2 separate regions of the Homo sapiens genome follow, and region 1 is linked to region 2. Evidence: fine-mapped expression QTL. A gene starts in region 2. The other region holds a variant in brackets. All regions are shown on one strand. Distances are between the middles of the regions.

The links.
Region 1: its variant is fine-mapped to the expression of GSR in ileum (CEDAR, PIP 0.91).

The regions. Positions count from the first base shown.
Region 1 is chr8:30,682,287-30,687,662 of GRCh38, forward strand. GSR (glutathione-disulfide reductase) reads right to left here. Exons shown (of 13, transcript NM_000637.5): 10 at 1,802-1,913. Among named protein-coding and RNA genes, the nearest start is that of GTF2E2, 27 kb to the left of the region's middle. The variant G/A (reference allele first, on the strand shown) is at 2,132.
Region 2 is chr8:30,725,076-30,730,451 of GRCh38, forward strand. It overlaps GSR (glutathione-disulfide reductase), which reads right to left and starts at 2,771. Exons shown (of 13, transcript NM_000637.5): 1 at 2,455-2,771. The coding sequence starts at 2,760. It also overlaps a transcript of UBXN8 not described here. RefSeq lists enhancers at 1,669-2,356, 4,119-4,643 and silencers at 2,432-2,871, 2,942-3,031.

The DNA.
Region 1 (5,376 bases), 43 kb before region 2:
TGAGCATCCCTAATCCAGAAATTCAAAATCCAAAATCCAAAATGTTGGAGCACCATGATGCCACAAGCAGAAAATTCCACACCTGACCTCATGTGAAGGGTTGCAGTCAAAAACGCAGACAAAAGTATGCCTCATGCACACATTTAAAATATCGTATAAAGTTACCTACCAACTATGTGTATAAGGTGTATGTAAAACAAATGAATTCCGTGTTTCGACTTGGGTCGCATCTGCAAAATATCTCATTATATATATGCAAATATTCCAAAATCTGAAACTGAAAACACTTCTGGTCCCAAGCATTTCAGATAAGGGATGCTCAACCTGTCTGGCCCCACTCCCAAAAGACACATTCACAAGTTCTCACTTACCTGGCAGTTAATCTACTTAATGAAGATATTAGCTTTTTAATACAATATTTATGGAACAAGCTATATTAGTTTTCAGCATCTTTAGTTCTATTTTATAACCCTAAAGTGCTGGAATTACAGGCATGAGCCACTGCGCCTAGAATCTTTATTATTATTATCATTATTATTATATTATTATTTTTTTTTTTTAGACAGAGTCTCGCTCTTGTTGCCAGGCTGGAGAGCAGTGGCGCCATCTCAGCTCGCTGCAACCTCTGCCTCCCGGGTTGAAGCAATTCTCCTGCCTCAGCCTCCCAAGTAGCTGGGACTACAGGCGTGTGCCACCACGCCCAGCTAATTTTTGTATTTTTAGCAGAGATGGGGTTTCACCATGTTGGTCAGGAAGGTCTCGATCTCTGGACCTCGTGATCTGCCCACCTCGGCCTCACAAAGTGCTGAGATTACAGGCGTGAGCCACCGTGCCCAGCTGAATCTTTATTTTTTTAATACAGACAACATCTCACTATGTTGCCCAGCCTGGTCTCAAACTACTAGACTCAAGCGATCCCCCAACTTCAGCCTCTGAAAGTGATGGGAGCCACCACACCTAGCCAAGAGCAAGAACTTTCTAAAGGAGCTAAAAGGGTTTGGGTGTGTGACTGGTGTAGGTTTTCATCCTGATATAAGGCCCTGGGACACGCTGGAATCGCTGATGAGGTTCTAGGTACAGACTGAAAGTAGATCAAGTGATCATTAATGGATAGAGATGGGACAGAGCTTGCAATGGTGCTTAGGAAGCGGGCTGAGGTGTGGGATGCCGGAGAGAAGGAAATCAGTCTTGGTTGTATCAAGACCAGTCATACAAGAATGACAATCTAGGCCATGTGTGGTGGCTCATGCCTGTAATCCTAACATTCTGGGAGGCTGAGGCAGGCAGTCTGCTTAAGCACAGGGGTTCAAGACAACATGGTAAAACCCTGTCTCTACAAAAAATGCACCTGTGATCCTAGCTACTTGGGAGTCTGAGGTGGGAGGATCACCTGAGCCCAGGAAGGTTGAAACTGCAGTGAGCCCGTGATCATGCCACTGCACTCCAGCCTGGGTAACAGAGTGTCTCCAAAAAAAAAAAAAATGCCAATCTAAATTACTTCTTCCAAATGCCACTTCCTTCCACTGCCACCAAGCACAAGTCTGCTCCTAAGAGAGTTCCGCAACGGGTGATCATATTGTCTACATGAAAACTTCAGTCTGTGCTAAGCATTTTAAGTCTTTTATTCAGATAATGTCAGGTATCCAACCAATATCTATTTCAACACATTGTACCATTTTGACAATATAAAGACACTCATCCTTTTAACTTTGCTTAAGCAGACTGCAGATTTGACAGTGAAGAGCCAGATGGATCATGTAACACGCAGACCCTCCCTCACCAAGAAGGGAAGAGACCTTACCTGGAGTAAGAAGAGCTTTTCCACATACATCCCCAACTGCATAGATGCCTTTGACGTTGGTATTCTGGAATTCGTCTACGATGATATGACCCTTGTCATCGGTTTGAATCCCCTAAAATTACAAAGAGATATCATGTAACCACTTGGCCCACCTACTAAAAAAGGTAGATCAAACCTCTGGATCTCCCTTCCTCATTTCACATGGGAACTGCAGCCAGAATCTCCAAGAAACCATGAGACTCAGCTGCAACACGAAAGGCATTTACAGCTGGCAAGTTTCAAGCTGGGTACAGTGGGCCCACACCTGTAACCCCAGAACTTTGAGAAGCC[G/A]AAGAGGGAGGATCCCTTAAGCCCAGGAGTTTGAGATCAGCTTGGGCAACACAGTGAGACCCTGCCTCTGTTAGAAATTAGAAAAAAAAAAGTTGGCAAGTTTCATATCTTGCTTAACATAAAAGGTAGTATTTTATCCACTTTTGAGATGTTTTAACAGGATTTGACATTGCAATGTACAATTCAACTGGCCAGGCAGACATGAAGAGGATCACTCAACTATCAGGTGTGCCACTTGGAATCCCTCTGGAGTCCAGCTTTTCAACTTGTCCCATGGAAGCACTGCTCCTGAGGAACACTGACTCAAGCAGTCACCAAAAGCATATCTATGTTTATTTAGTTTTTTTTTAGAGACAGGGTCTCGCTCTGTTACCCAGGCTGGAGTGCAGTGGTGTGATCATGGCTCACTGCAATCTTGACCTCCTGGGCTTAAGCAATCCTCCTGCTTAGCCTCCCGAGTAGCTAGAACTAGAGGCATGTGCCATCACACCTGGATAATTTTTTAACATACATTTATTTATTTATTTATTTATTTATTTATTTATTTATTTATTTATTTATTTATTTATTGAGATGGAGTCTCGCTCTGTCGCCCAGGCTGGCGCGATCTAGGCTCTCTGCAAGCTCTGCCTCCCAGGTTCACGCCATTCTCCTGCCTCAGCCTCCCGAGTAGCTGGGACTACAGGTGCCCGCCGCCACACCCAGCTAATTTTTTTGTATTTTTAGTAGAGACGGGGTTTCACCATGTTAGCCAGGATGGTCTTGATCTCCTGACCTCGTGATCCACCTGCCTCGGCCTCCCAGAGTGTTGGGATTACAGGCGTGAACCACCACGCCTAGCCTTTTTAACATTTTTTTATAGAATAGGTCTTGCTGTTTCCCAGGCTGACCTCAAACTTCTGGCCTCAAGTGATCCTCACGCCTAGGTCTCCCAAAGCACTGGGGTTACAGGTGTGAGCCACCATGCCTGGCCAAAAGCACATTTCTATGAAGCTTACCATTTTGTCTTTAAAAATCCAAGCAACTTTTGCACTCTACTCTAAAACATACTGATGTTTTTTTCAGACTCCCAGAAGAAAAGTAAAAGCAAAACAAAACAAAAACACATATTGATGTTTCCCTTAACCAAAAATATTTTCCTATATGTAGTCAAATTTTTGCTTTAAGAAGACATGTTATGCTTATCATGTGGCTTTGCAAATCCTAAGTATATATGAGAAGTAGAGATATGGCAGAAGTAGGAAGTAAGTAGCCACAGAGCTTAAGAGTACAACTGGCCAGGCGCAGTGGTTCAGGCCTGTAAATCCTAGCACTTCGGGAGGCCAAGGCGGGCGGATCACCTGAGGTCAGGAGTTTGAGACCAGCCTGGCCAACATGGTGAAACCCTGTCTCTACTAAAAATACTAAAAATTCGCCAGGCATGGTGGTGCATGCCCACCTACTTGGCAAGTCCCAGCTACTTGGGAAGCTGAGGCAGGAGAATCACTTGAACCCAGGGGGCGGAGATTGCAGTAAGCTGAGATGGCACCACTGACTCCAGCCTGGGCAACAGAAAGAGACTCTGCCTCAAAAAAAAAAAAAAAAAAAAAAAAAAAAGAGTACAACCTTTGGTACAGACAGACCAAAATTCAAATCCTAGCTCTGCAACTTACCGGTTATGAGACCTTGTATAACCACCTGTTTATCAACAAATATTTAAGCTTCTATTACAAATGAGACTTTGACTTCATCACTGAGAATACCATGGTAAGACAGACATTCTCCCTACACCATAGAGTTTACAGCCCAGTAAATTATCTAGTATCTCTGTGCTCCTGGCTTCCTTATACCTTGCCGGTTGTTGGCAAGATTAAATTAGATTAGTAACATGTTGACAAGACCTAGCACATAGTAATCACTCAATTTGCATTATATAAATATATCTTAATGTCAAATGAGACTGAACCTTTTTTTTTTGCCTCATTCTTCAAAAATTTAGCAAATATAGGCTGGGTGCAATGGCTCATGCCTGTAATCCCAGCACTTTGGGAAGCTGAGGTGGAAGGATCGCTTGAGCCCAGTTCAAAATTAGCCTGGGTAATACAGCGAGACCTTGTGTCTACAAAAATTTTTTTTAAAAATTAGCCAGGTGTGGTGGACCACGCCTGTAGTTCCTACTACTTGGGAGACTAAGGTAGAAGGATGGCTTGAGCCCAGGAGTTTGATGCTGCAAGGATGCAGTGAGCCATGATGGCACCACTGTACTCCAGCCTAGGTGACAGAGCAAGACCCTATCCAACCCCCCCAAAAAAAGTTAGCAAATTTAGTTGAAAACTGGACCTATCAGTGCTTACATCTGTACAATGGCAAAATATCTCTTGAAAGGTGAAAAGCTGAATGACCAGTTTTTTGTTGTTGTTGTTTTCTTTTGGTGTTTTTTTTTGGTTTTTTTTTTTTGAGACGGAGTTTTGCTTTTGTTGCCAGGGCTGGAGTGCAATGGCGTGATCTCGGCTCACTGCAACCTCAGCCTCCTGGGTTCAAGCGATTCTCCTGCCTCAGCCTCCCAAGTAGCTGGGATTACAGGCATGCGTCACCATGCCTGGCTAATTTTTGTATTATTAGTAGAGACGGCATTTCACCACGTTGCCCAGGCTGGTCTCGAACTCCTGACCTCAGGTGATCCACCCGCCTCAGCCTCCCAAAGAGCTGGGATTACAGGTGTGAGCCACGGCGCCTGGCTGACTAGTTTTGTTAATATGAAAATAGGCAATTAATTTTACTAAATGTCATTGAATAAGATTACAAACAATCAAAACATCTCCCTGAATATTTTATAAGTTAACATGCAGAAAAATGACCTTTTACAGAAACAGAAAAGGAATCCACATTACAACAGGAACTTAGTATTAGAACATAAGTCAAAAGGTATACACTGCTCAAGCAGCTCTATCAAATATATACGCCTCAGGCTGGGCGCAGTGGCTTACGCCTGTAATCCCAGCACTTTGAGAGGCCACGGTGGGTGGATCACCTGAGGTCAGGAGTTCGAGACCAGCCTGGCCAACATGGTGAAATCCTGTCTCTATTAAAAAAATACAAAAATTCGACGGGCGTGGTGGTACACGCCTGGAATCCCAGCTACTCGGGAGGCTGAGGTAGGCGAATCGCTAGAACCCAGGAGGCAGAGGTTGCAGTGAGCTAGATCACAACACTGTACTCCAGCCTGGGCAACACGGCAAGACTCTGTCTCAAAACAAACAAACAAA
Region 2 (5,376 bases):
GGGAAGGGACATGTCTCACAAATGTTTATATCTATCGTTTTCTCCCTACCCACCCCCAATCCCAGCACTTAAAATACAAAAAATGGGACAGGAGTGGTGGCTGATGCCTGTAATCCCAGCATTTTGGGAGGCCAAGGCAGGCCGACTGCTTAAGCACAGGCATAAGAGACCAGTTTGGGCAACATGGCAAAACCCTGTTTCTAAAAAACAATAAATAAAATAAAAACAGGCCAGGCGTGGTGGCTCACGCCTGTAATCCCAGCACTTTGGGAGGCTGAGGTGAGCGGATCACAAGGTCAGGAGTTCAAGACCAGCCTGGCTCTACTAAAAATACAAAAGTTAGCTGGGTGTAGTGGCACCTGTAATCTCAGCAATTTGGGAGGCCGAGGCAGGAGAGTTGCTTGAACCCAGGAGGCGGAGGTTGCAGTGAGCCGAGATTGCACCACTGCACTCCAGCCTGGGTGACAGAGCAAGACTCCATATCGAAAAAAAAATAGATAAATACATTTTAAAAATAAAAAATTAGCTGGGTGTGGTGGCTCATGCTTGTAATCCAAGCACTTTGGGAGGCCAAGGTGGGTGGATTACCAGAGGTCAGGAGTTTGAGACCAGCCTGGCCAACATGGCAAAACCCCATCTCTATTAAAAGTACAAAAACTAGCCGGGCATGGTGGCATGCACCTGCATTCCCAGCTACTCGAGAGGCTGAGACGGGAGAACTGCTTGAACCTGGGAGGCAGAGGTTGCAGTGAGCCCAGATTGCACCACTGTACTCCAGCCTGGGTGACAGAGTGAGACTCCCTCTCAAAAAAAAAAAAAAAAAAAGAATTCATAACAGGAAGGTAAAGTGGGTGAACCTCTGAAGCACATTATAACATAAGTAGAGAAAGAGGAAGACAGAGAAAATGTGGAGAGCAGAACAGAAGTGAGAAGTGATCAAGTACTCTCATGAGGTGTGGGAGGGGGGCACTTAGTGGCACCCCACAATCTGCCTTCTGGAGAGACAGATTTCTAACCTTCTGTCTGGACTATGGTGTCAAAGTGCAAGTTGATAATTAACAGAGATTTTTCCTTTCTCTTCATCTCCATGTTCATCTCCAAGGCACTGAACAATGAAGTCAACCTTTTCATAACTGTCCATTTTTAGTTTCATTCATTGCACAAGTGCTTATTGAGCAAGGGATTTTAAGGTGATAAGAGACACACAAACACAGAAGCCCATCCCTGTCCTTAAAGAGCTCCCAATTTGACATAATTTAAATATTCATCTCCAAAGGAATTTAGAGAACCTATCCCAAATCCCAGGTTCCTCTTGGATACAGCATTTTAATCGTCAACACCCAAATCTTGTGATAGAAAAGGGCGGGCACACCAATAACTTGGAAACAACATTTATTTTTAGAATGAGTGCAGTGGCTCAGGCTTGTAATCCCAGCACTTTGGGAGGCTGAGGCGGGAAGATCGGTTGAGTCCAAGAGGTTGAAATCAGCAAGGGCAACATAGCGAGACCCCCATCTCTACAAAAAATAATAATAATTAACTAGGCGTGGTGATTAGCCCCCTGTAGTTCCAGCTACTCAGGAGGCCAAGGTGAGAGGATCCCTTGAGCCCGGGAGTTCGAGGCTGCAGTGAGCTATGATGGCCACTGCACTCTAGCCTAGGTGACAGGGCAAGACCCTGTCTCAAAAAACAAACACAAACAAAAACCCTTATTTTCAAAAATTATGAATTTTGTAAATCTCAGGATTTACATCCCTCTGTTTTTAGTTTTGCAATCCACATAAAACCAAGACAAAACAAAAGCTCTGAGAACTCACCTACTCAAGGTCGCCTTGGCTGCAATTCAGATCACCCGAAAATCCCAAAGCCCAGGCTGCACTTCAGACCAATTAAGTCGGGAAACATCCCAAAGCCCAAGTGCACCTCAGACCAATTAAGTCGGGAATCCAGGCACCCTCAGGTGATTCGAATGTGTAGCCAAGGTTGACAACAACCGCTATAAATCATTCTGCCCTTGAAACGGGAGAACCAGGATCTACATTTTTCAAGAACCAGGATCTATGGCACCGTCACCCTCGTCCCTACACACAGGCCACCAGCAATGTTCCCAGATGCAGTTTTGTGTTTCACGCGGTCAAGAACAGAATCCAATCCTCTCCCACTTGGACAAGTGAGGATGGAGGAAGGTTAATCTAACCCGCCCCGGCCCTGGTCAATATCGCATCCGTGCGGAAGCAGACGCTGGCTCGGCTTTGCGGGCCGCAGAGAAGCCCCCGGACGCCTCTCTCTCCTCCACCTGCTGGGTTCCTGGCTTCGGAATGGGGAGTTGCGGGGGTGGAAAAGAGGAAAGCCCAGCGCCGGGGGACAGGATCGCCATAGGAACGAGCACAGGCTGTCCCCCGAAAGACCGAGACAAAGAGGCGCCCCCCGCCCGAACAAACCGGCGGTACTCACGCAAGTGCCACCCAGCTTGTGGCTCTCCACCACGGCGGCCCTGGCACCCAGCTCGGCCGCCCTGCGCGCGCTGGCCAGCCCGCCCGAGCCGCCCCCGATCACCAGGTAGTCATAGGAGGCCACGGCGCCAGCAGCGGGCGGCGGGCCCTGCGGCTGCGGCTCCTGCCTGCAGGCCATGGCACGGGAGAGGGCGCGCGTGAGGGCCGCGGGCTCGGGCAGAAGCAGCAGGAAGCCTCGGAAGGCGCGCGCCGCCCGCCGCCAGCTCGGTCCCGCGCCGGCGCTCAGGGCTCGGGGCAGCAGGGCCATGCACGCGGAAGTGGCGCGCCAAGTGGGGCGGGCGGCCCGGGGGCGGTCCCCGGGGTAGGGGGGCGCGGGCCCCGGGCAAGCGCAGCCTCACGGTGACTAAGCATGCGCCCGCCGCTAGGCAAGACCCAGGAGGATGCCCAGAGGCGGGGCCGCCTCCCAGTTCCCCGCCCCGGTGGCGGAGCCTGAGGGGTTTCTCCGCCTCCGTTCTCACCCCGGCCCCTGGATCCCGAGCGGCGCCTGCCGCGTGTAGCCTTCTGAAGTCCGGTGGATCGAGGCGAGGAACGGTGAACGTCCTCTCGTTTCAGCTGGCTTTTCCCGAGCTGGCCCCCTGGGGAGTTGCCAGTGGCACGGCTTCTCCAGGAAGAGAAATTTGCCTCTATTCGAAGGGTTGTTTGTCCAGGTTTGTTCCAGAGACCACTTTTGTTTGTTCTTGCTTTTTCTTTGAGACTGGGTCTCACTCTCCCCCAGGCAGGGGTGCAGTGATGCGATCTCTGCTCACTGCAGCCTCCACCTACTGTGCTCAAGCAGCGATCCTCCCTCCTCAGCCTTCCCGGTAGCTGGGAACTACAGGTGCCCGCCACAGCGCCCAGCTAATTTATTTATTTATTTATTTAATTTTTTTTTTTATTTTTTTTATTATTTTTATTTTTTTTTTAGAAATAGGGTCTCACTATGTTACCAGGACTGGTAGGGAACTCTTGGCCTCAAGCGATTCTCTCACCTCGGCCTCCCAAAATGCTAGGATTATGGTATGAGGTCACCACTTCTCCTGTTGTCCTTCTCAGTTTCTCCCCAACCTCCCCTTTTCCCTAGTTTATAAGACAGGAGAAAAGGGAGAAAGCAAAAAGTTGGAAAGAAACAGAAGTAAGATAAATAGCTAGACGACCTTGGCACCACCACCTGGCCCTGGTGGCTAAGATAATAATAATATTATTAACCCCTGACCAAAACTATTGGTGTTATCTGTAAATTCCAGACATTGTATGAGAAAGCACTGTAAAACTTTTTGTTCTGTTAGCTGATGTATATAGCCCCCAGTCACGTTTCCCACGCTTACTTGATCTATTATGATTTTTTCACGTAGACCCCTTAGAGTTGTAAGCCCTTAAAAGGGCTAGGAATTTCTTTTTCGGAGAGCTCGGCTCTCAAGACGCGAGTCTGCCAACGCTCCTGGCCGAATAAAAAACCTCTTCCTGCTTTAATCTGGTGTCTGAGGAGTTTTGTCTGTGACTCATCCTGCTATATTTCTTGGTTCCCTGACTGGGAAGCGAGGTAATTGACGGACAGTCGAGGCAGCCCCTTAGGGGGCTTAGGCCTGCCCTGTGGAGCATCCCTGCGGGGAACTCCCGCCAGCTTGAGCGACGCGGATCCTGCGAGCGCTCCTGGGTAGGCAATTGCCCCGGTGGAACGCCTAGTCAGAGCAGTGCGTGGCAGGCCCCCGTGGAGTATCAACGCAGTGGCTGAACACCGGGAAGGAACAGGCACTTGGAGTCCGGACATTTGAAACTTGGTAAGACTGGTCTTCGGAACTTGCCCACTCCATTTGAGTGGAAGCATGGCCTGATCACCCACGGCGTGCCTGTACTGGCACTTTGGTTTTTGTTTTTGACTTGACTTGAATTGCTTGACACTTTGGTTTTGGTTTGACCTGGCTTGGATTACTGGATACTCTGATTTTGGTTTTGATTCTGGTTTGGTGAAAACTGAAAAAGTGCGTGTGTGCCCTTTTTACCCATTCTTTGTTTTGTGGTGTGCGTTTGGTGTGAGCTTGGTGTTTTGTCTTGAGGAAACACGGGTCAGACACAAAATAAGCCTACTCCTCTAGGAACTATGTTGAAAAATTTTAAGAAGGGATTTAATGGCGACTATGGGGTTACTATGACACCAGGGAAACTTAGAACTTTGTGTGAAATAGATTGGCCAACATTAGAAGTGGGTTGGCCATCAGAAGGAAGCCTGGACAGGTCCCTTGTTTCTAAGGTATGGCACAAGGTAACTGGTAAGTCAGGACACTCAGACCAGTTTCCATACATAGACACTTGGTTACCACAGTGGGTAAGAGGGCAGGCAGCAGCAGTGCTAGTAGCAAAGGGACAGATAGTCAAGGAAGGATCCCGCTCCACCCACCGAGGGAAATCAACTCCTGAAGTTCTGTTCGACCCAACATCAGACGATCCATTGCAGGAGATGGCAAAAGTCATCCCAGTGGTGCCCTCCCCTTACCAGGGAGAGAGGCTCCCCACTTTTGAGTCCACAGTGCTTGTGCCTCCGCAAGACAAACATATCCCTAGGCCACCCAGAGTAGACAAGAGAGGAGGTGAAGCCTCAGGAGAAACCCCTCCCTTGGCAGCTCGTTTAAGACCCAAAACGGGGATACAAATGCCCTTGAGAGAGCAGCGGTATACTGGAATAGATGAGGATGGGCACATGGCGGAGAGGCGTGTTTTTGTGTGCCAGCCCTTCACCTCTGCCGACCTTCTCAACTGGAAAAACAATACCCCGTCCTGTACTGAAAAGCCACAAGCTCTAATTGATTTGCTCCAAACTATTATCCAGACCCATAACCCCACTTGGGCTGATTGCCACCAGTTGCTCATGTTCCTCTTTAACACAGAT